Linked DNA regions of Homo sapiens: regions 1, 3, 4, 5, 6 and 7 are each reported to be linked to region 2. Evidence: microRNA targets listed by miRTarBase, many of them from high-throughput screens and not tested one by one. Region 2 holds a microRNA gene; each other region holds the end of a gene's coding sequence.

What was found. Region 2 holds the annotated microRNA hsa-miR-6831-5p (UAGGUAGAGUGUGAGGAGGAGGUC, at 1,647-1,670, opposite strand). A microRNA usually pairs through its seed, bases 2 to 8, with sites in the 3' UTR of a target mRNA and lowers its output. Matches are read on the target gene's strand: a 7mer-m8 pairs with bases 2 to 8, a 7mer-A1 pairs with bases 2 to 7 and ends in A, and an 8mer does both.
Region 1: the mRNA of PEX11B is a reported target of hsa-miR-6831-5p. Seed matches in the 3' UTR shown: 7mer-m8 at 2,017-2,023.
Region 3: the mRNA of EDN1 is a reported target of hsa-miR-6831-5p. Seed matches in the 3' UTR shown: 7mer-m8 at 1,996-2,002.
Region 4: miRTarBase lists RAD18 as a target of hsa-miR-6831-5p. Seed matches in the 3' UTR shown: 7mer-m8 at 579-585 and 7mer-m8 at 337-343.
Region 5: the mRNA of NOA1 is a reported target of hsa-miR-6831-5p. The part of its 3' UTR that is shown has no 7-base or 8-base seed match.
Region 6: the mRNA of PRSS22 is a reported target of hsa-miR-6831-5p. Seed matches in the 3' UTR shown: 7mer-m8 at 2,699-2,705 and 7mer-m8 at 2,693-2,699.
Region 7: miRTarBase lists NCKIPSD as a target of hsa-miR-6831-5p. The part of its 3' UTR that is shown has no 7-base or 8-base seed match.

Annotation. Positions count from the first base shown.
Region 1 is chr1:145,909,586-145,912,585 of GRCh38, forward strand. It overlaps PEX11B (peroxisomal biogenesis factor 11 beta), which reads right to left. Exons shown (of 4, transcript NM_003846.3): 4 at 1,765-2,981. The coding sequence ends at 2,576. It overlaps ITGA10 (integrin subunit alpha 10), which reads right to left and starts at 465. Exons shown (of 30, transcript NM_003637.5): 1 at 378-465. The coding sequence starts at 429.
Region 2 is chr5:140,562,081-140,565,157 of GRCh38, forward strand. MIR6831 (microRNA 6831) reads right to left here and starts at 1,671; the gene lies at 1,591-1,671. APBB3 (amyloid beta precursor protein binding family B member 3) reads right to left here and starts at 2,518. Exons shown (of 13, transcript NM_133173.3): 1 at 2,117-2,518; 2 at 1,672-1,835; 3 at 1,514-1,590; 4 at 583-643; 5 at 273-419; 6 at 20-147. The coding sequence starts at 2,165. It overlaps SLC35A4 (solute carrier family 35 member A4), which reads left to right and starts at 2,748. Exons shown (of 3, transcript NM_080670.4): 1 at 2,748-2,778. LOC131768270 (SLC35A4 upstream open reading frame protein) reads left to right here and starts at 2,748. Exons shown (of 3, transcript NM_001394034.2): 1 at 2,748-2,778. The coding sequence starts at 2,764. RefSeq lists enhancers at 1,676-1,735, 2,344-2,950, 2,706-2,825 and a silencer at 2,206-2,385.
Region 3 is chr6:12,295,546-12,298,639 of GRCh38, reverse strand. It overlaps EDN1 (endothelin 1), which reads right to left. Exons shown (of 5, transcript NM_001955.5): 5 at 1,446-2,678. The coding sequence ends at 2,573. Among named protein-coding and RNA genes, the nearest start is that of EDN1, 6.7 kb to the right of the region's middle.
Region 4 is chr3:8,878,520-8,881,613 of GRCh38, forward strand. RAD18 (RAD18 E3 ubiquitin protein ligase) reads right to left here. Exons shown (of 13, transcript NM_020165.4): 13 at 1-2,940. The coding sequence ends at 2,838. Among named protein-coding and RNA genes, the nearest start is that of RAD18, 83 kb to the right of the region's middle.
Region 5 is chr4:56,960,980-56,964,073 of GRCh38, forward strand. It overlaps NOA1 (nitric oxide associated 1), which reads right to left. Exons shown (of 7, transcript NM_032313.4): 7 at 2,371-2,682. The coding sequence ends at 2,471. Among named protein-coding and RNA genes, the nearest start is that of NOA1, 15 kb to the right of the region's middle.
Region 6 is chr16:2,850,284-2,853,377 of GRCh38, forward strand. It overlaps PRSS22 (serine protease 22), which reads right to left. Exons shown (of 6, transcript NM_022119.4): 6 at 2,447-3,046. The coding sequence ends at 2,810. Among named protein-coding and RNA genes, the nearest start is that of PRSS22, 6.3 kb to the right of the region's middle. RefSeq lists an enhancer at 1,943-2,442.
Region 7 is chr3:48,672,012-48,675,105 of GRCh38, reverse strand. It overlaps NCKIPSD (NCK interacting protein with SH3 domain), which reads left to right. Exons shown (of 13, transcript NM_016453.4): 13 at 359-1,262. The coding sequence ends at 562. Among named protein-coding and RNA genes, the nearest start is that of LINC02585, 9.8 kb to the right of the region's middle.

The sequences.
Region 1 (3,000 bases), not on the chromosome of region 2:
TACATATTATATGTATATTATATATAATATATAATTATGTTATATATTATATGTATATTATATATAATATATAATTGTTATATATTATATGTATATTATATATAATATATAATTATACATTATATATTATATAATTATTAGATACAAATCTTACACAAGGTCCTAGGCAGCTTTAGCCCCTGCCAGTCTCAATATTCAAACAGTCATATGTGAGGGCATAAAAATGCACAAGGACACAGACACACATACAAGAAATGTACAACCAGTGTTCGCTTCCTAACCTAAATCCCAAAGAATTTTAACTATAATGGTCCCAATTCCAAACAATCTATGTATCTTCCATCCCCACCAGAAACCAAGAAGTTAACTTCCCTCACCTGTCAGGAACACCAGGGGCAAGAACAGGTGAGTGACGAAGGGGAGTTCCATGCCTGATCGGTTTCTGTCCAGTATGAGAAGTCCTCTGGCCTCTGTCCCTCTCCTTTTCTGTTTTCTTCACTTTCCCTCCCATCCTGCCCCCTCCCAATGGCAGCTAAAAATAAAGTTGGAAGGAATGGGAGGAGTGATGGTGGGGAACTGTGGGGAGCCCCAGACCAAGGAAAACACTGAGCGATCTTAGTCTATTTCTCTGCCTTGGTGCTGCCCCCTGGAGGCCTCATCTCTATATCCAGAGAACATATTTTTTTGCCCATTTCTGCTATTTCTTTTTTTCTACTGTTTATTGTTGCCAGGTCAATAATGCTTTCCTCAAATTTGGAACAGGAGTGGGAGATGGATTCTTTTTTATAAGAAAAGAATCTTAAACTTTTGTTTAAAAGTTTTAGACAAATTATTTATATTGAGAATACAGACAGGGTTTCACTATGTTACCCAGGCTGGTCTTGAACTCCTGAACTCAAGGAATCCTCCCACCTCAGCCTCCCAAAGTGAGCCACTGCACCCAGCTGGGAGATAGGAGATAGATTCAGATTTTTTTTTTTCTTTTTTAAGGCAGAGTCTCACTCTGTCACCCAGGCTGGAGTGCAGTGGCACAATCTTGGCTCACTGCAACCTCTGTCTCCCACGTTCAAGCATTTCTCATGCCTCAGCCTCCCAGGTAGCTGGGACTACAGGCACATGCCACCATGCCTGGCTAATTTTTTATTTTTAGTAGAGGCAGGGTTTCACCATGTTGGCCAGGCTGGTCTTGAACTCCTGACCTTAAGAGATCCACCTGCCTCGGCCTCCCAAAGTGCTGGGATTACCGGCGTGAGCCACCACGCCTGGCCGATAGATTCACTTCCTAACCTTATTTATCTCAACCTGGAATATGGAAAATGAAAGAGCTGATAGCAGTGGTATCATTTCCCTACCCACCCAGGGGAGTCTCAACTTGTGAAGACACAGCTCCAAATCCTTACCAGCCCCACTCCACTTGGTTCTGTCCTTGGCTCTTAGCCTATGCTGTCATATGGCATTCTGCTTCTTAGAGGGATTATATCTGAACTGGTATGAGATGTGCTTTGTGGAGCCAGGACAATAACTTTAGTATTAGACCACTCCTCTGCCACCCCAACTCCTCAGCTAGGTTATAAACTTCTTAAAGTTGGGAGTGTGGAGCTTCTTAGATTTTTGGATGCCCACTAAGTATGTTGCTTTACATACTGTAGGTGCTCAAGAAAAATAATGTGGGTGATGTTAGTGGCTAATCCCGAGAAAAACCCAAACCACAGTGACAGGAATAGGGGCCTCAAATTACCAAAAAATGAGGGACCAGACCAAATGTCGATGAGCAAACTGAACTTTAATTTGCTTACCTGAAAGGCTTGCTCTTCATTATTGGCATAGGCCACAGCTATTTACACAGAATCATTGTACAGGATTTACAGCAAGATGCTACACATAGCATCATTCTGGATAAGCGACAAAGGAGTAAGAACAGACTGGGGAATAAAGCTCTGAAATCAAAGTGTAAGCAGAAATCTGAAGGTAGGTGTACAAGGAAGGATAAGGGCCAAATGATGAGCGAGGTTGGTGAGGTAGACATAAGGGAGGAAGAGGAAACATCCAACAACTTGTGGTGCAGAGATATAAGGGAAGAGTCCACTGGCACATAGTCTTAAAAATTATGTTTGGAGTTTGAAGGAGGAAAAATCTGCCATAAGCCACCTCTGTGAGAAAAAAGAAGGCAGTTAGAACCTTACAGGCCAAACCTTATACCTCCCCTATCAAAAAGTAATTCTGCTGATTAAATCCCTGGATAGGAGAATGAGAAGGTTGAAAAAAGAAAGAGAGAGATGCATAGACACAGAACCTTAAACAGAGTTAAGAGACACAAAGTAAATATATTCAAGAGAGACACAAAGAAAGAGGAAAAGAACAGAAGCTCAGGCACATCTAGAAATTAGAGACATCCTATTAACTTCACGAGTCATCTTTCCTTACCTCATCTTCCCCAAAGCTCTTCCTCCACCCCTAAATCTCTGAATTTCTAACTTTAACCAAAGAGTAGAATTCGAATGAGGCTGGCACATGGGGGACGATCTAAGATTCCATCTCACCAATTCAGGTCCCCTCCTTATCCTGTACCGGAAGGTCAGGGCTTGAGTCGTAGCCAGGGATAGATTAGGGTGAGAATAGACAGGATGGAGGACACGAGGCCACAAAGCCCCACAATCCCAGGGCCACAGCGCCAGAGGCCTAGTTTGTCCAGAGGAATGAAGAGATCACAGGCATTTCTGACCACGTCTAGCAGAAGTGGGGGATGACCTCTAAGGACTCGAGCCAGGAGCAGGACTTGCAGCCGAAGTTTCAGAGCCAGTTGGGGCAGACCTCCTCCTGGAGTCCCTGGTCCCCCAAGTCCCCCAGTTTCACTTCCTCCTGGGACTCCTCCTCCAGAACCTTTCAGTCGCCGGCTACAAGCAGAAGACTCTTGCTCCATCAGTAGGCGAATCTCATAAGCATCACGGCTCAAATTCATGATGAGGGAAAACAAATAGTACCTGATACACAGAGCAAAAG
Region 2 (3,077 bases):
GGGATGTAGGCATCCTCACCGGCCCTTGGAGCTCCCCACGCCCCACACACGGATGTGCACCAGAGGCTGGCAGTGGATCAGACTGTGGTCCAGGGGATTCACTAGGCTCATGGCATCCTTCTTCAGGATCATCAGCATGTTCTGGCCCTGCCAAGGACAGAGGTCAGCCCAGAGCTCAGATAAAGGTCATTGCCATGAGAAATAGGAAATTCAGGGACAGCTACCTCTGCTGGGCCCTGGGCCCAAACCATTAAAGGGCCCAGCCAACTCACCTCACCCCAGGCACCATCTGGAGGCTGGCTCCGGCTGCGGGTCTGGGCCAGCTGCTGGATACAGTTATTGACTGCAATACTGCTCTTCCCCGGTGCCAGGTCCTCTTCAGGTACCTCTACCCAGCCCAGAGAGCGGACTGCAAAGCACTGACAGGTTGGGGGAAGGGACAGGAATTAATAAGGATGGAGTAGGGTGGCAGGTGCCACAATACATACTCCCTGTCTTCACCCTTGATCACCTCTGTTCAGTCCAATCCCACCCTTGTCTTTCCCTTGGGACCTCCCAATGCCCTCAGGCCCAAGTCACTACCTTAGCCCCTGGCTCCATGCTCTGGATGTAGGATTCCCCACCATACCAGGACAGAGAGTTACTGAAACAGAGCAGAGCTGTTAAGAGGACCACATTTCCTACAGTAGGGACACTGGTGAGGCCTAGACAACTTGATAAGCACAGGATGAGGGGCAAGACCCAGAATATAGCACCAGAAATATAAAACCAGAGCAGGGTAGAGCCCAGGACATATTAACGTAACATAAAGTGTGACTCAGAATTTGAGGGAAAATTCAGGACATAGGACCCAGACACAGGACATAGAATAAAAGTCACAAGGCTAGGTGCAGTGGTGGCTCACGCCTGTAATCCCAACACTTTGGGAGGCTGAGACGGGTGGATCATGAGGTCAGGATATCGAGACCATCCTGGCCAACATGGTGAAACCCCATATCTACTAAAAATACAAACATTAGCTGGGCATGGTGGCATGTGCCTGTAGTTTCAGCTACTCAGGAGGCTGAGGCAGGAGAATGACTTGAACCTGGGAGGCGGAGGTTGCAGTGAGCCAAGATCGTGCCACTGCACTCCAGCCTGGATGACAGAGTGAGACTCCATCTCAAAAAATAAAAAATAAAAGTCACAAAATAGAACAGGGTCCAATATGTGGACCAGAACCCCAAAGTGGGACAAGAGACCCTAGAACAGAGGACTTAATGGCCAAGGTCTAGAACATGATAGGTTAGGACCAAGAATATGAAAAACATGTAGCTACAAACAAGAGCTTAGAACAAGGGATAAAACTCAAAATACTGACAGTTAAGAACCTGGGACAGAGCCAAGAACGTAACAGAACCCAAAACATGTGACAGAATCCAGAACCTGGGCTGGAAAGCAGACCATGGGTCCAGCTGCATTTTTGAACACCATGGAACCCCAAGCCTTTCATTTTGCCTGGGCCACCCGTTACCTCCGGTCCAGTGAACTCTCCAGGCTGGAGAAGGATCTCCCTTTGGGGGGCCGCAGTCCCCAGATCCCCTCCGTTCCCTGTAGAGTGGGAGTTAGTCAGTTTAACAGCAGACCTAGGTCCACACATGGGCTCAGACCTCCTCCTCACACTCTACCTACCGTGCCTGGGTCCTCTGCATCTCCTAGTTCCCAGGTTGGGCGCTGCCACTGGGTGCTACCGCTGGGTACATGCCAGTAGTAAGTACCTGCAGCATCGTGGATCTTCCTCCAGCCAGGAGGCAGGCCAGCCTCCACCTCCAGACTGTGGTCCCCCCACAAGTCATCTACAGGAACACCGGATTAGAGAGGAGGGAGCATATGATTTGTGAGTTCAGAATAACATGCTGTCATAATCCCCTCTCCATCCCCAAAATGGGTCAGTTCTTAGGCTGAAGATCCAGGCTCCTCAATCTTGAAGACATCACATGTAAAGACCGGGTTCATTCGCCCCCTGGTCCCTACACAGAGAGGTATCCCCCACCGTCTTTGAGCCCCAGAGTAGCCTTTCGGATTCCCTCGTCCTCCCTCAGCTCCTGGTCTTCCCACCGGGCCCCTCCGTGCACACCATCGCAGTTGACCAGAATGATGGCCAGCATGTAATCCTTGCCCAGCATAACCCCGGCTGCTCCCCGCCAGCCTCTGCCGGCCCGCACTCTCAGCCCAGCGCGACCTCTGGAGCTACTGCGCCTGCAAGCCCAGCCTCTCTGCGCCGCAGGCTGCGGGGCCAGCTGGCGCCGCACAAATACGGGGCGGGACACGGGGCGGGACACGGGCCGGTCCCGGGGGAGGGCCTGAGCCGCACAGCCCGCCCAGGGGTGGTGCGTGTAAACGGGCGTCTGGATCCCCGAATGGTTGCGTGTTTCCGTGTGTGGGTCCGGGGGAGGCCCACGAACGCCAGCGAAACCGCTGACACCACCGCCCAACTATGAACTCATCAGGCGCCTGAAGACCGACACGCCGAACATGCGCCGCGCGCACTCGCGCACGAGTGAGATCATCGCGCCCCGGTCGTGAGTGCGCTCACACGCAGCCTGAGACTCGACGGGAGGGGGTCACGTGGAAGTATCTGAGAGAGGCGTACTTGGCCACTAGGAAAGCACCTCCCCCTTTCCAAAAATGCTCCGGAAGTGCCTTCGCCCTCCGTAAAGATGGCCGGGGCAGTCGGCACGAGGGAGGCGGGGATGCGCCTGCGCAACAAGTTCGGCGGGGAAGATGGCGGATGACAAGGTGAGTGGCCGTGGGGGTGATCTGCAGCCGGGCGTGGTCTTCACTCTCCTTGACCTTTTTAGTTCCGGGGAGAAGCGACTCTGGAGCGGCTCAGGAGTGAGGATGTCCCTTGTTTCTTCTGCGGCTCCTGTCAACTGCCTCAACAGTGTGGAGTGGTGTGGGGAGAGCATTCGGCGAGGCGGGAGGAGCCGTGGATCCCCCAGATGTCCCCTCCTGGGAACCATCACGAACCCGTTACTAGCACAGACTCAAAAACATTCACCCTTAAACACTCCTCACTTTACCCCATTCCCTAGCTC
Region 3 (3,094 bases), not on the chromosome of region 2:
AAATCCTCATGCCCTAGAGTGTCTACATCATCCCTTTCATTTTTCCTACTGGATACTGAAGCAGGAAGCATGGGAAAGGGGGGCTCAAGGGTTTGACTGATGAAAAACCCAACCAAAACTCATCAATCTGACTTACTATGCTGTCCTTTGGACTGTTTTGTTCAGTGGCTTCTCTGATTCTGACTTCCTCTTAAATGTATTAGATCCATGTCTTCTAAGCTCAGATCTTTATTTTTTTTCATGCCACTTCAACTTCTTTATGTAATCTCAAACTCTTTCTCAGAGGTATGAAAGAAACTCCCCTCAACTCCCTTGTTTCATAGATGAGAAAACTCACGATAGAAGGAAATTGAATCGTTTGCTCAAGATTAAATACTGGCCAAGTTCAGACCAAGCACCTTGTCAACATGGGCAAAACTTCAAAATTTTCTTCAGAGTCACGCACTGAGAAACAGTTTATGGATAAAGTAAGCTTTATAAACAATTCCCCAAAGACATTGGACTGTGCCTTAAAGAGAAAAATGAGGATCAATGAGGACGGAGACTCTGCACAGGACATTGATTACGCATGCCTGAAGACTGTTATTTGAAATCCTTCTGATGTGTCACTGTTAGGACGACAGTGATCACTACATGCTAATATTTGTTAAATGCCAGGAATTCCTTCAGACACTATTAGAGAAGGGCAAGGAAGATTCTCGAGGGCTAATCAAGCTCTTAGAGAATTCAGTTAGTAGTGACCATTTGCAATACTGCAATTGCAATACTGTGCTCTCCAGTGAGCTGACAAGGCCAGCCAAGGCAAAGTGGAGAGGAAGTGGTGCTTTGTGGCAGAGGACCTAGAATCAGTACCTGGTGTCTCTACCTCCATGGGCACACGGCCAGTCCTAGGCTATCACGAAGAAGCAATGGTACTCAATGTTCCTTAAGAAACAACATCCTTAATGTGAGAAAATAAAAAGCCATTGGAAACCTCTACTTGCTCTGAGCAGGCCATTTTCTAAAAGCAACTTTGGTATATAACTTTGTATAATTAGGTATGTTTTGGGGGGTTGTCTTGCCATTACTTCCTTCAGTCCATTAATATGGATAAAGCATCTCTCACCACACCATCAGCTTAAACTGTTGAATCCTGCCTAATAGCCTGAGCCAAGTTAATGGATGAAGTCCCTGGAGAATTTTTCAGGTGAAGGAGAAGCAGGAGGCTGCTACCCAAGAGAAGACAGAGGTGTTAAAGCTGCTTTTTTGTTTTGTGTTTTTACCTCAATGCAGTATAAAATCAACATTTAAGATACAGATAAAATTCTTTATATAATTAGCTTAGACCGTAATATCCTTCTAATTGTCACTTTTCTATGAAACCGTCTTTAACCATTTATTTGCCTTTATGGTACTTAATCACGTTGGCCCACTCCTTACAAATTTCAGTAATGATTCCAAATCAGTACAGTAAGGAAAAAAATATTTATTTTCTAAAGTCATTACCTTGACAGGCAAAACAAAGCATGTTCTCAATTTCATTTAGAAATACATATTTTAAAAATACATAGACCAATATGGCCTGCCCAAACAGATATTTAACATGGTAAATATAAGGAATAAATTGTTTGAATATAAATATCTATAAAAAAATAAGTACATCAAAATTCAATCCAACCTCTTTCATTAGCCGGTTATATAAAGGAAAATAATTTTACTGCTTTAAAGCGTAACAAACACTTACTTTTCAATATATTTCATAAACAACCCTATACCATTGTGTCTCCAAAAATCAAGGACAGGGAATCTCCTGATTTAATGATCTTTTTTTTCTTATGGATCAGAGCTAGTAGATTACCATGAAAATATTATATCTACTGCTGACACATTAGACCAGACTTCTACGAGGCTAGGATTTAGTATGGGGGATGGAGGAAGGGGCAGCAGGGGTGGGAAGAGTTTGGGGAGGCAATAATTAAATGTGGGAAATACTTCTGCCAGAGTGCAATATAGGTGAGGTAGACTCATATTCATGAAACATATCCTGATTTATGGTAGTAACAGTTTCATTCAGTTTTGCATTTTACAAATTTAAACAAAAGTCTTTCTTTTTTTTTTCTTTACTTGCATGTTTGTCTTTTGAGTGTGTTTTCAATTTGTGCATTCCTTAGAAAATCTTTGTGTGGACTTTGGAGTTTCTCCCTGAAATGTGCCAGGCGCCTGAGTCAGACACAAACACTCCCTTAGGACCTTCGTCAGAAACTCCACCCCTGTGTGGAATCTCCTTCCTCTCTCTCTCTCCGGAGGATGCCACCCGAATTCGAATGTGACTGTGTGTTTCTGCTGAGAGGTCCATTGTCATCCCCAGATGAAAGAAGAGACCAAAGCAGTTACCACTGATGGAAGCCAGTGAAGATGGTTGGGGGAACTCCTTAACCTTTCTTGGAATGTTTTGAACGAGGACGCTGGTCCTTTGCCAGTCAGGAACCAGCAGAGGATGCTCCTGCTCTGATCCCAGCCAGGGTGGAGAGTGCAGAGTCGGCCACAGGGCTCTCCGTGGAGGCTATGGCTTCAGACAGGCCCCGAAGGTCTGTCACCAATGTGCTCGGTTGTGGGTCACATAACGCTCTCTGGAGGGCTTGCCTTTCAGCTTGGGATCATGAAAAGATGATTTGACGCTGTTTCTCATGGTCTCCGACCTAATAAAGCAAGATAAGAGAAAACAAATGTTATTTTAAAAAAATCACCCTTTGGCAAAAGAAACATGTAAAATTAGAATCTGGCACAAACAAAACCTGAATCTGGTTGTGAACTTTCACCACCCGCCGCAACTCTTTGATAAAACCTCAAGTGATATCTATTACCATTGTAAAAATAAAGCCTGCCCCTATGCTTAGAATGGGAGCGAGGGGTCATATGGTCAAGTCTAAGGGGAAGTGGGCAGTAAATACAGGTTTTAAATAAACTAGAGTTGTTCTGGTTTCTTCCGTAGCCCCATCCCAACCTTCATCACTATGTGACCCTGCCTTGAGGAACTCAGCATAGGTTTTGAATAGTTATGGCCATCTTAATAAATTGACGGTGACTTAGTTGAAAAGAGAGAAAAAGAAAAGAA
Region 4 (3,094 bases), not on the chromosome of region 2:
TTTTTGGGTTTTTTTCCAGAAACAGTTCTAGCCTTCTCTATGTTGTCTATCCCTGTTGACACATCAGTCTTTACCATGTAATTTTGTTTTTAAAGGCATACCTCCCTCTATTATATACATGGTCTTATGTGTATGAATTCTTTTTTCAACTAGACCAGTAATCCTCAACATGAGGTCGAAAAAGAAAGACGAGAGTAGAGGATGAAAGGACGGCCTGGCATACTAGGCCATCTAAAGTGCATCCAGCAGCTCACCTGCACCCCCACAAACCATAAGCATCACTGCCATTCTGAGCTGATGTTGATGGGAGATGTTATAACTTTGAGGGGAGTGAGGAGGTAGAAAGAGTTAATAACTCTGAATTACTGTAAGTTTGGTGAGAAACTGTATTTTCACTAAAAGGTGAATTTTAGAACCAGAAGTTTATCAGTTTCAATTTTGGATCTATTACTTACTCTAAGTTCCTTAATCTTTGTCAGATGGATATGAACATACATTTCTTTCAATGTATGAATATTAAACATATGCTAAGTGCTAACAGATAGTGCTCAATAAATGCTCTTTAGACCTTACTTTTCAGGTAGACTTGGGAGTTCCTTTACATTACAGGTTTCTCAGTCTTGGCACAACTGACATGTTAGACTGGATAATTCTTTACTGTGGAGTGTTGTAGTCTAAAGCGTGCCCCTTAACCCCTACCACTAAATATGTTGGAAGTCTTAACTGCCGGTATCTCAGAATGTGACAGTATTTAGAGATAGGGCCCTCTATCTAAAAAAGAGGTAACTGAAGTAAAATGAGGCCATACGCATGGGCCCTGATCCAATGACTGCTGTCCCTACAAGAAATCGGGACACCAGTCCTGCACAGTCATGTGCACACAGAGAAAAGACCATGCAAGGACACCATGAGTGGAAGCCAAGGAGAGAGGCCGAAGAAGAAACCCTACTGATCTTGGACTTCCAGCCTCCAGAATTCTGAGAATACACATTTCTGTTGTGTAAGCTTCCCCGTCTGCAGTATCTTGTGACGGCAGCCCTGGCAAACTAATCCATGAGGGTTGGGTGTTTAGCCTCATCCCTGGCCTCCACCCATTGATACTGGTAGTACCCCTCACCACCCTCCACCTCCAAAAGTGTCTCCACACATTGCCAGCTGTCTCCTGGGGGGCAAAATCTTTCTGCCCACCCCACTGGGAACCATTGTTCTAGATGATCTTTGGCCACCTTTGTATTCCCAGTGTCAGCACAGTGACAGACATAGATAACCAAATATTTGCTGAATGAACTCATGTGCCTACTTTCCCAATCTTGGGTCTCACCGCTCCCTCACAAACTCCTTTTGCTGCAATTAAAGTAATAATTACTTCCAGTTTAATTTATAGACTATATAATTTGTCATGAAACAAACAGTTTTCATTTTGACATAATTTCTGACAACTCAGTGACATAAATATATCCATGTGAGCTCCTATTTTGTTTGACATGCTCACTTACCTCACATCAGTTCTGCCGATAGATTTGGTAAGTGGTGCTTTTAGTTTCCTTAATGCACCCCTCAGGATTTCATGCAAATGAAATTATTATGACAAATTTTTCTATAGCCATTTCTAACACAGGGAACTCATAAAGAAATCAAATGTCTGCACTTCACTGTGAAAACACTAAACTCTCAGCCATAATGAGACTCCACACATTATCAGAAACCCCAAGGCATACCAAAAAGACAAGGTCAACGGAGACAGTCTTTGGAAGGGGAGGTCATAAATGTTGAATCTGGCAAATCATAAATTTCTTGTCTTAACATTGCCGCATTTACTATCATCTCATTTGAAAGCTGATGTGTTTGGGTTGGGTGATGGCAGAGGGGTGGGAGTTGGGGGATGCTGGCTCTGAAATGCCAGAGAGGCATTAAGAACTCTGGAAGCATCTGGCTACTGGTAGACATTTTACACAGATAGCAATTTCTGACCAATCCATTTCAATGATTTCTAACCCATACTCAACTATCCAGAGGATACTGTTTTAAGAACATTATTGTAAACTGATACTCTCTATTCATTTACAAAATTCATTCATTGCATACTTTTTGTTTAATAGCTTGGATTCAGTGTTACAGATTTGATTGACCCAAGTGAAAAAATACTGACACTAATCATTTTTAAGTGCTATTTCAGAAGAATATGCGCAATGTTTCTAAGTTATTGTGACTTTGTGACTGTCGTAGCTTTAAATTATAATACTAATATCCTACTCTGAGAAATGTGTAAGACACAGGTCTAACAAACAACTACATTAACCTCGGGCAACAACCATCATGGAGCTGCTGTAACACAGGCATGGTGGTGGCGTGCATCGGTACTTACACACACCAAGGATGTGAACTGACATCCCGCCTTTCCAAAAACAAACATTTAACTCAACTGTTTCTTGCAATAAAGAAGTTGAAAGAATCCTTTTGTGAGGCTGGATTCTCCATGGAAGAGAAGGAGAATGGCCTAAGGACATTCTGAAATTTAATTATCAAACCAAACCAAACCAAACCAAATCCCTGTGCCAAAGTGCCAAAGAGTCTACCTCCTCTGCAAAGCTGGTACCTGTGTGAAATGTCAGTATTTTTAGAGAGAGATGTTTTAGAGGCAGGAGGCAACTGACCAAGTAAGGATATTTTGTAACATTTTTCCCCTCTGGAAAAGCAGAAAAGAATGAATATCAGCTAACCGTAATATTTAGAATTTAGCATCTTTCCTTGGGCATTTATAAATAGAAAATCTATCTGTGGCAACCAAAAGTACGGTATTCTAATCAATGCATTTGAAAAGTCAGCAAAAGCCCACATTAATTCCTATTACGCTTGTTTCTTGGTTCAATCTCAGCACTTTCAGCGGCTCTTGTGCGGCGATTCTGTCTTGGACTTATTTCTGTGTCTTGAAGATCGTTTCTGAAGACAGAAAAAGGAAATGACATCTTGGAAAGTAATGATTATTGTACAGCAGTTTCTAGTTTACAAGTGTTTTCACACATATTATTTCATTAAAACCTCGAAATAATCCTCTATTCTGTTGATGAATTCATAATTGTTATTATTAGTATTT
Region 5 (3,094 bases), not on the chromosome of region 2:
TGAGGAGTGGGGAGAAGACAGGAGAGTGTGAAATACATGGGGGCTCCCATATGTTGGGACAGAACATGGTCCTCTCAGGAATTTCATGGCTCTAACTGCGTTTCAGCCTAGCTTATCTTACCAGCATTTATTTCAACATTAGGATCTGGGACTTGACTTGCCAATTCTTCATGACACAGCTGTGGTACTACTTACTCAGCTAGGAATAACAAAAGGTGTAGACTTTTTCTTTTTTCCTTTTTTCAGACAGGGTCTCGCTCTGTTGCCCAGGCTGGAGTGCAGTAATGTGATCATAGCTCACTGCAGCCTCCATATCCCAGGCTCAAGTGATCCTCCTGACTCAGCCTCTCCAGTAGCTGAGATTACAGGCACACAGCGCCACACCTGGCTAATTTTTTTGGGTTTTAGTAGAGATGAGGTCTTGCTGTGTTGCCCAGGCTGGTCTTGAACTCCTAAACTCAAGCAATCCTCCTGCCTTGGCATCCCAAAATGTTGGGATTACAGGCATGAGCCACTGCTCCTGGCCAATAAAGACTTCTGATTGATGTAATGTTATTCAGTCATATAAAGATGAAATGTAAATAAAATGGTTAAAGTGTCCTCTCAGTTGCAGAATAGACCTCAGTTGCTAGAAATACATAGCTTTTTAAAAATCTTTATTTATTTAGTTTTTTTGGGATGAAGTTTTGCTCTTGTTGCCCAGGCTGGAGTGCAGTGGTGTGATCTCGGCTCACTGCAACTTCCTTCTCCTGGGTTCGTGCAATTCTCCTGCCTCAGCCTCCCGAGTAGCTGGGATTACAGGTGCCCACCACGCCTGGCTAATTTTTGTGTTTTTAGTAGAGATGGGGTTTCACCATGTTGTCCAGGCTAGTCTCTAACTCCTGACCTCAGGTGATCCACTTGCCTTGGCCTCCCAGAGTGCTGGGATTACAGGCGTTGAGCCACTGTGTCCAGCCGACAATTCATTTTTATTAAAAAAAATAATAGAGATGGGGTCTCACTATGTTGACCAGGCTGATCTTGAACTCCTGGCCTCAAGCGATTCTCCTGCCTTGGCTTCCCAAAGTGCTGGGATTACAGGTGTGAGCCACTACATCTGGCCTTGAATCCTTTTTTATCTAAGATTTTCAGGCATTGTCAAATTGTGTAAGGTAAATTTCTACTTGTTCTCTAGTATCCATTCTCCCCATTTTTCCTTAATAAAAACCCCAAATGGTTCCCATTTCCTCCTCCATTTCCCAGCTTCCTTATGGGTGGGTGTGGCCATGTGACTTGACCTGTGGACTATGTAAACTGATGTGTGCAACATCCAGCTTTTCTTCCCTTCTTTTAAATAGGGAAGTTGCTTGCTCTCCATACTTTCCCCCTTTTTACCCTTGCTGGAAAAGGATGACAACTTGGGCAGCCACCTTAGACCTACAGATGGCCATGGAATGTTCCACCAGCTGGATCCTTGGAGCAGAGCCACCTACTCACTTCTATCTTATTTAAGCCAATGAATTTTGGAGAAATTAATTTTCCTGCCATTTTTTCATATACTGACTGCTAACTCCAAATAAGAGAAATGACATCTGGTCTCAATATAAAAAACAGTAGTGAGGCGGGGCATGGTGGCTCACACTTGTAATCCCAGAACTTTAGGAGACCGAGGTGGGTGGACAACATGGTGAGAACTTGTCTCTACTAAAAATACAAAAATTAGCCAGGGGTGGTGGTGCATACCTGTTATCCTAGCTACTCAGGAAGCTGAGGCATGAGAATTGCTTGAATCCAGGAGGTGGAATTTGCAGTGAGCCGAGATTGCACCACTGTACTTCAGCCTGGGTGACAGAGCAAGACCCTGTCTCAAAAAAAAAAAAAAAAAAAAAAAAAGAAACAACAGTAGTGGGAGAAACTTGAATATAGCAGGCTTCCAATTTTATATATATGTGGGTCACAGATACATACCATATACATACTATACAAAAAAAAAAACTTTTTATAAGCTGAATACATTATGAACATAAGTCTTGAATAGTTTAAAAAAGTTAACTGTTAAGAGCTTTGAAAAGGGTGAGGCTGGCCGCGGCGGCTCACGCCTGTATTCCCAGCACTTTGGGAGGCTGAGGCGGATGGATCACCTGAGGTCAGGAGTTCGAGACCAGCCTGGCCAACATGGTGAAACCCCATCTCTACTAAAAATACAAAACTTAGCTGGGCATAGTGGCGCATGCCTGTAATCCCAGCTACTGGGGGGCTGAGGCAGGAGGATTGCTTGAACCTGGGAGGTAGAGGTTACAGTGAGCCAAGATCGTGCCACTGCACTCCAACCTGGGCAACAGAGCAGGGCTCAGTCTCAGAAAAAAAAAAAAAGAAAAAAGAAAAAAAGGGTAAGAATGGGAGCTTTATTTATGCGTTATATGTTTAATACAAATTCAATGTATTTTGTTGTGTTCAATACAGTTAATATCTGGAGTGAACAAGGTCGGTCTCATACATTTATCTTTCCTTTCTTCTTCCTCACGTTGTACATAAGGGAAGGAGGCTTCTTGGTTTTATAGGCCACACTTTTCTTGATGCGCTGTCCTTTGATGTTAACAATATATGGCAAGAGAGGGGGCCGGACGGTCAAAACTGTTCCTTCAGGTGTATAGCCTCGGAGATGCAGTCTGTCCTTAAAATTAGGTGTTACTGAAACCCAACCTATGCAGGCATGTGACACAACACAAAAGGCTGTTAGCAATCATCTTATTAAAAATACCAAACCAAAGCTGAAAATGGACTATCAGAGAACGCTGTCACTCTCTTTCACTCTCTTATTATTTTATTATTTTTTAAGAAACTGCGTCTTGCTATGTTACCCAGGCTGAACTCAAGTTCCTGGGCTCAAGCGATCGTACTGCCTCGGCGTCCCGAGAAGCTGGGGGCACAGGTGGACACACCTTAGTTTTAAAAAAGCATACAATGCGTTTGTGCAAAGTACAAATTTATTTTCAGAATAGGTTGTATTTTATGAATAAACTAGTATGTACACCTTAAAATAATCAGCTTTCATCAGTTAAGGCACTTTTCTATAAAAAAAATTGTCGGTAAGGCTGCTTTATTCACTTTTTGT
Region 6 (3,094 bases), not on the chromosome of region 2:
CTTACAGGGTGGTTTCTCCGCCCCCCTCTAGGCGCTACATTCTCAGGGGCTTCTGTCAGGACCCTATTAGAGGGAGTAGATGCACATGCACCAGGGCCTGTGGAGGGATGGGGTAAAGGGACAGGCACCCACAAAACTGAGGGTCGGAGAACGAGAGTTGACAAGGAGGAGAAACAGGACAGGAGCAGGGAGAGGAGAGGAAAAAGAGGAAGACGAGGGGCAGGAGAGGGCTGGCCTGGCGGCACAGAGCAGTGGGGCAGAGCTGACAGGGCAGAAGGAGACACTGAAGGGAGAGACTCCAGGACAGGAGCAGGGGAGGGAGGTAGAGAAATGAGGGAGGGGGCACTCAGAGACAGAAGGGGGCAGTCGAGGAGCAGGGGCAGAGGGGGAAACCGAGTGAGGGAGAGAGGCCAGCAAAGGAGGGCTGGAGAGGGGAGGGGCTAAAGCCCACAGAGGAGATAAGAGAAGCCAGAGCATAGGGTGACATCAAGAGGGGACCAGGTCACAAAGGGAGAGGCCGTGGCGGTTGGCTCTGCTACCTGGCACACCTGAGTCACCCCAGCACTCCCTGGGCTGGTCACTCTGACAAACAGCAGGGCAGTTCTGGTTGGTTGGTTGGTTGTTTTAATAAAAACAACCCTAGGCCAGGTGCGGTGGCTCACGCCTGTAATCCCAGCACTTTGAGAGGCTGAGGCGGGTGGATCACGAGGTCAGGAGATTGAGACCATCCTGTCTAACACACTGAAAGCCCATCTCTACTAAAAATACAAAAAGAAATTAGCCGGGAGTGGTGGCGGGCACCTGTAGTCCCAGCTACTCGGGAGGCTGAAGCAGGAGAATCGCTTGAACCCAGGAGATGGAGGTTGCAGTGAGCCGAGATCGCGCCACTGCACTCCAGCCTGGGTGACAGAGCGAGACTCCATCTCAAAAAAAAAACAAAACAAAAACAAAAACAAAAAAAACAACCCCATAGCATTTACTGTGATCTGATAATCATATAAAAGTGATCAGGCTGGGCCAGTGACTCACACCTGTAAGCTCAGCACTTTGGGAGGCCAAGGCAGGTGGATTGCTTGAGGCCAGGAGTTGGAGACCAGCTTGGGCAACATGGTGAAACCCCGTCTGTAAAAAATTTAAAAATTAGCCAGGCATGGTGGCACACGTCTGCAGTCCAGCTACTCGGGAGGCTGAGGTGGGAGGATCACTTGAGACTGGGAGGTAGAGGCTGCAGTGAGCCAGGGTCACACCACTGCACTCCAGCCTGGGCAACAAAGCAAGCCCTACCTTGAAAAAAGTAAATAAATAAATAAGGCAATCAAAACAGTATGAACAAATATTTTAGAACTGCACTTACAACAAAGGACACCAAAAAAAAAAAAACCCAAAAAACTAAACCTGTATTGCCTTCTCCAAACTTGGCCATGCCCTTGATCATTTCTGGTTGGAGATATTTCATGGCAGAGTCATAGTGTCTCTTCTTCAGCACAATTGGACCTGGTTGTTTTCTTGACCTGGCTTTGGGTGAATCTCTTCTGTATCGGCTACTAAGAGGGTCATATTCTCACCAAAGCCAGCGGCACAGCCCTCTAACCACATACCTATTTGTTACAGGGATGCTGGGGAAGGCCTGCATCCAGGCAGGCTGGGATGAGGGCCCTGGGTCCAGGAGGCCAGAGCCGGCTGCAGATGAGTGGATGTGGGGAAACAGAGTATTAGCCTGCATCCCTAAGCAGGCAGGAAGCCAGACAGACCCCTCCTCTCGGCTTGGGATCAAACTGCCACCCCCCATGGGGACAGGTGGGGTGACTCAACCCCTGATGCCCGCAGAGCCAGAGGCCTGCCCTGCCACTGTCCGCTGCTTCTTCCAAACTGGGGAGTTTAGAGCTTTGGCAGTGAGTCGCTCGACAAATCGGCTCCTGGGGATGAGGACCCAACAGCCAGCCCACGGAGACGGGGCTCTGATGGGGCTCACCTGGGCGCCTCCCTCCACCACCACCCGCAGCTCTGCCATCCTGAGGCCCCTGAGGCCTGTGGTGGAGAGAGCAGAAGGGGGGGCTTGGCCTGGGGTAGAGAGGTAGCACCTCACTCTCATGGGGCTGGGTTTCTCCTCACCAGCCCTGTTTTGGAATCCAACGCACAGTTTCGGAGTCCCAACCCCTCTCCTCCCCTTCCTGAAGCACCAGAGCTGGGTCTTCCAGGCCTCTAGACTCTGCCCCTTCTCCATCGGCTGCCCTGCCCTGGTGGGAGAGGGATAAAAGGGAGGGTGGCCCAGGGCTGCAAAGGTCAGGGGTCAGAAGGCTGAACCCTAGGTGGAAGCAGGGGTCGGCGTCAGCCCCAGGTGGACAGGACCACGCAGTCTCTGGCTAGGCCAACATCCAACCCCCAACCTTAACCCCCTCTGGACCCTTGCTTTCCAGTGTCCCCAGGCATGGGAAAAAACAGACACTGGAGAATAAATAATTTATTGAAATTGGAGGAATAAATAAGATATGTGGGCAGGGTTACAAATACCTATAAAAATCATTAACATTTATATACACAAAAGCGCTGGGGCCCGGGGCGGGGCCGGAAGTCGTGGGGGCGGGGACATGAGGCCGTTGGGCGGGGCCTGATGCCTTGGAGGCGGGGCCTGAGGCCGTCGGGCGGGTCGGGGAGGGGGTTTCCTTTCCGCAGCAGCCGTCCGGGCCCCCAGAGGTAGAGGTAGATGAGCCTATTTACGGCGGGGGAAACCGCCCGAGGCCGCCGCAGATCCAGATCCAGATGTGGATCTGGCCGCCTTTCAGATCCGAGCCCCGCGTCCCGCTGCGCCCTAGGAGCGCGCGGCGGCCCCAGAGCCCTGGCTCGGTGCCCTGAGGGCCCCACCCCCCTGAGCGCGCCCGCGGAGCTGCACCCCTTGCACGATCTTCTCCACCCAGGAGCGGTGCGCAGAGAGGCTGATGTAGACCCCGGGCCTGTTGCGCTCGGCACAGCCCTCGCCCCAGCTGATGATGCCGGCCAGCAGCCAGGCGCCGTCCACCTGGCACATGAGGGGGCCCCCGGAGTCGCCCTGCAGAGAGGAGGCGAGGTTAGGAACCCCCGTGGCACAGGGGGTGGC
Region 7 (3,094 bases), not on the chromosome of region 2:
TTTGAAGCTGTGAATGTGCACGAGGTCTTCCAGGGTAAGAGAGGATAGGGTGAGAAGCAGAGGGCCTCTGACTGATAGACAGAGGCACCTTGAGAGACCCAGCTTCAAAGGATGGGCAGGACTTCCCTGGGCAGGCCACATACTTGGGGCTGTCTGTGGCTGGGATGATTCGTTTATTCGCTTACTCAAAAACTATTGAAGACCAATTCTGTGCCAGGTATATTGTGGGTGCTGGGGATGCAGCCCTGATGTTCAGGTCCACAGCCCTGGGGTCTGTGGGACAGTGGGGTCCTGTCCCTGTCCAGTGGTGGTTGCAGTACCTCCCTGGGGTCCCTGAGCTGGCCTGCTCTTCCCACAGCTGCGCATGGAGTACCTCTCCCTGATGCATGCTATAGTCCGCACCACACCCTACCTGCAGCACCGCCACCGGCTACCCGACCTGCAGGCCATACTGCGACGCATCCTGAATGAGGAGGAGACCTCACCCCAGTGCCAGATGGACCGCATGATTGTCCGAGAGATGTGCAAGGAATTCCTGGTGCTGGGGGAGGCTCCCAGCTAGCACCTTGCTGTCCTCCCTTCCCTGCAGCTCCAGTCAGTGTGCAGGGGACTCAGGGGCTTGGCCCTAAGAATGTTTTGCACTGACAGTGGGAGGGGATAAGGTGGCAGAAGGAACCTGAGCAGGACCCCCACCTGAAGTAGAACTTAAGAGAGGGGCCAAGTGTAGGATTGGGGACCATGGTCTGGGAGCTGTTCTGGGGCAGGGGGAATATGCAAGCTAAAGCCCCTCTATACCCTGGTAGGCTTCCTCTTCAGCATGCCCCCCTCTTCACCCCACACCCATGTGTACACTCAGAGTCCTGCTGCCGCTCCAGGCTGGACCAGACCCCCATCCCCACCCCTCCTGGTCTGTATCCTGGGCCTCAGCAAGCCATGCCCCTGGGGTGAGGGGAGGCATCTCCCACCAGCTCTATTCTTTGCCTTAGCTTTGCAGTGAGTGCTGCTCATGTCCTCCCCTCCACCCGCACATGGGGGTCGCTGCCCTTCACTCCTACCCCCAGAGGCCTTGGCCAAGCTGCTGCTTTGAAAGCGGGATCTTGGAGACAGGCCATCCATCCTGGAGCCTCATGGAACAGGATGATGGCACTGAGAAAGCCAATGACCGAATCTCTTTTCTCTGTAAAAATGTAGACTGAAAAGCCATGTGTATTTTCCTATGTGCTGTAGCTCTCCTTTGGAAATAAATCACAGGCATCTGGAAACAGGCTTCCCTGTATGATCTTGGGAGACAGTGGGAGAGGATGGGCAGAAGTACTGGGGCCTCAGGACCCCATCACTGCAGCTTGCACTGACTTCTCCAGCCTGAGGAGGTGATGGACCCTGACAGGCCTGGCCTTCAAGGCCCTTTGAGCCCTGTTCTAGCCTCTCTTCCCTGAGCTCCACTTTTCCTGAGCCCCAGCCATAGCCAAGTGCCCCTCAGCAGCCCATTCGCAGGTGTCTGCATCTCCAGGCTTCACTTACACACTTACATCTTTCTTTTTCTCCTTTTTTTTTTTTTTGAGACAGTCTCACTCTGTTACCCAGGCTCACTGTAGCCTTGACCTCCCAGGCTCAAGTGATCCTCCTGCCTCAGCCTCCTGAGTAGCTGAAACTACAGTAGCCACCATGCCCAGCTAATTTAATTTTTTTTTTTTTTTTTGGTAGAGACAGGGTCCTACTATGTTGCTCAAGCAGGTCTCAAACACCTCAGTTCCGGTGATCCTCCTGCCTTGGCCTCCCAAAGTACGGGGATTATAGGCGTGACCCATCGCACCGGCCCGCTTACATCTTTCACTTACATCTTTTGCTTTGCTTTGAATACCGCTACTCTCTCCCCTGTTGAAACCCTATTGTCCTTCATAGTTGTTCTCAAATGAAGCAGGCCCCTACCTACCCCCAGCCCTGGCCTCTGAATGCTTGGGCCTGTCCAGCCCTATTTTCTTCCCCCATTTGTCCTTGTTTCCAGCAAGATCACCTCATCTTGCAACCTCAGCAGAGATCTGGTAATCATGGTAGGGCAGAAGGAGGGTCTTAACAAGCATGGGGTTACGTTTCCATTAGTGTTTTAGAGGAACTAAGGGCCAAAATTTGGCAAAAACTTCACTCTTGCAGACTCTCAAGTTAGCAAAGAAGTTCTCACCATAAGTTTGGGAGCAGAGTCAGAAACCCACAGGCAGACACCAGTCAGAAGTGTTGTTTCTGTTTTCTAGATTGAGTCTCACTATCTTTTCAAGGCTGATGTCCAACTCCTGTGCTCAAGCAGTCCTCCCACTTCAGCTTCCCGAGTAGCTGGGACTACAGGCACACACCACTATATAGGCTTCACACACAAGTGGTTTTCATCAGTTCCCTTTATTTTTTACCCAAACTCTTCATTCATCAGATGTTTCCACACATCAGCAATCACTGACACTGACTTCTGGTCATGACTTTTTCTTTCTTATTGGGGTGCTGAAAACAGAGGGCAGTTATCCTCCCAAAAAGAAGGTAAAGCAGCACAGGGAGGCAAGGGCTAGGGATGGGGCCCCCCAGCAAGAGGCTCTCAGAAGTTGAAGCAGCAACATTCCATAGGAAACCCATGGGAGGAAAGTATGGGGTCCTGGTGGGGGATGCCCTGCTCACCGCTTACTGTCAGAAGGCCAGGTGCACAAACTCACTGGGACCTGAGGAGGGGTTGACAGTGTTTGGCCCCCAGTAAAGCTCTGTGGGACACAACCTGGTTACTAACTTTTTTTTTTTTTCTTTTTGAGACGGAGTTTTGCTCTTGTCACCCAGGCTGGAATGCAATGGTGTGATCTCGGCTCACTGCAACCTCTACCTCCCAGGTTCAAGCGATGATTCCTCTGCCTCAGCTTCCCGAATAGCTGGGATTACAGGTGCCCACCACCACATCCAGCTAATTTTTGTATTTTTAGTAGAGACGGGGTTTCACCATGTTGGTCAGGCTGGTCTCGAACTCCTGATCTCAGACGATCCACCTGTCTCAGGCTCCCAAAGTGCTGGGATTACAGGTGTGAGCCACCGCGCCCAGCCCCCGCTTTTTTTTTTTTTTTTT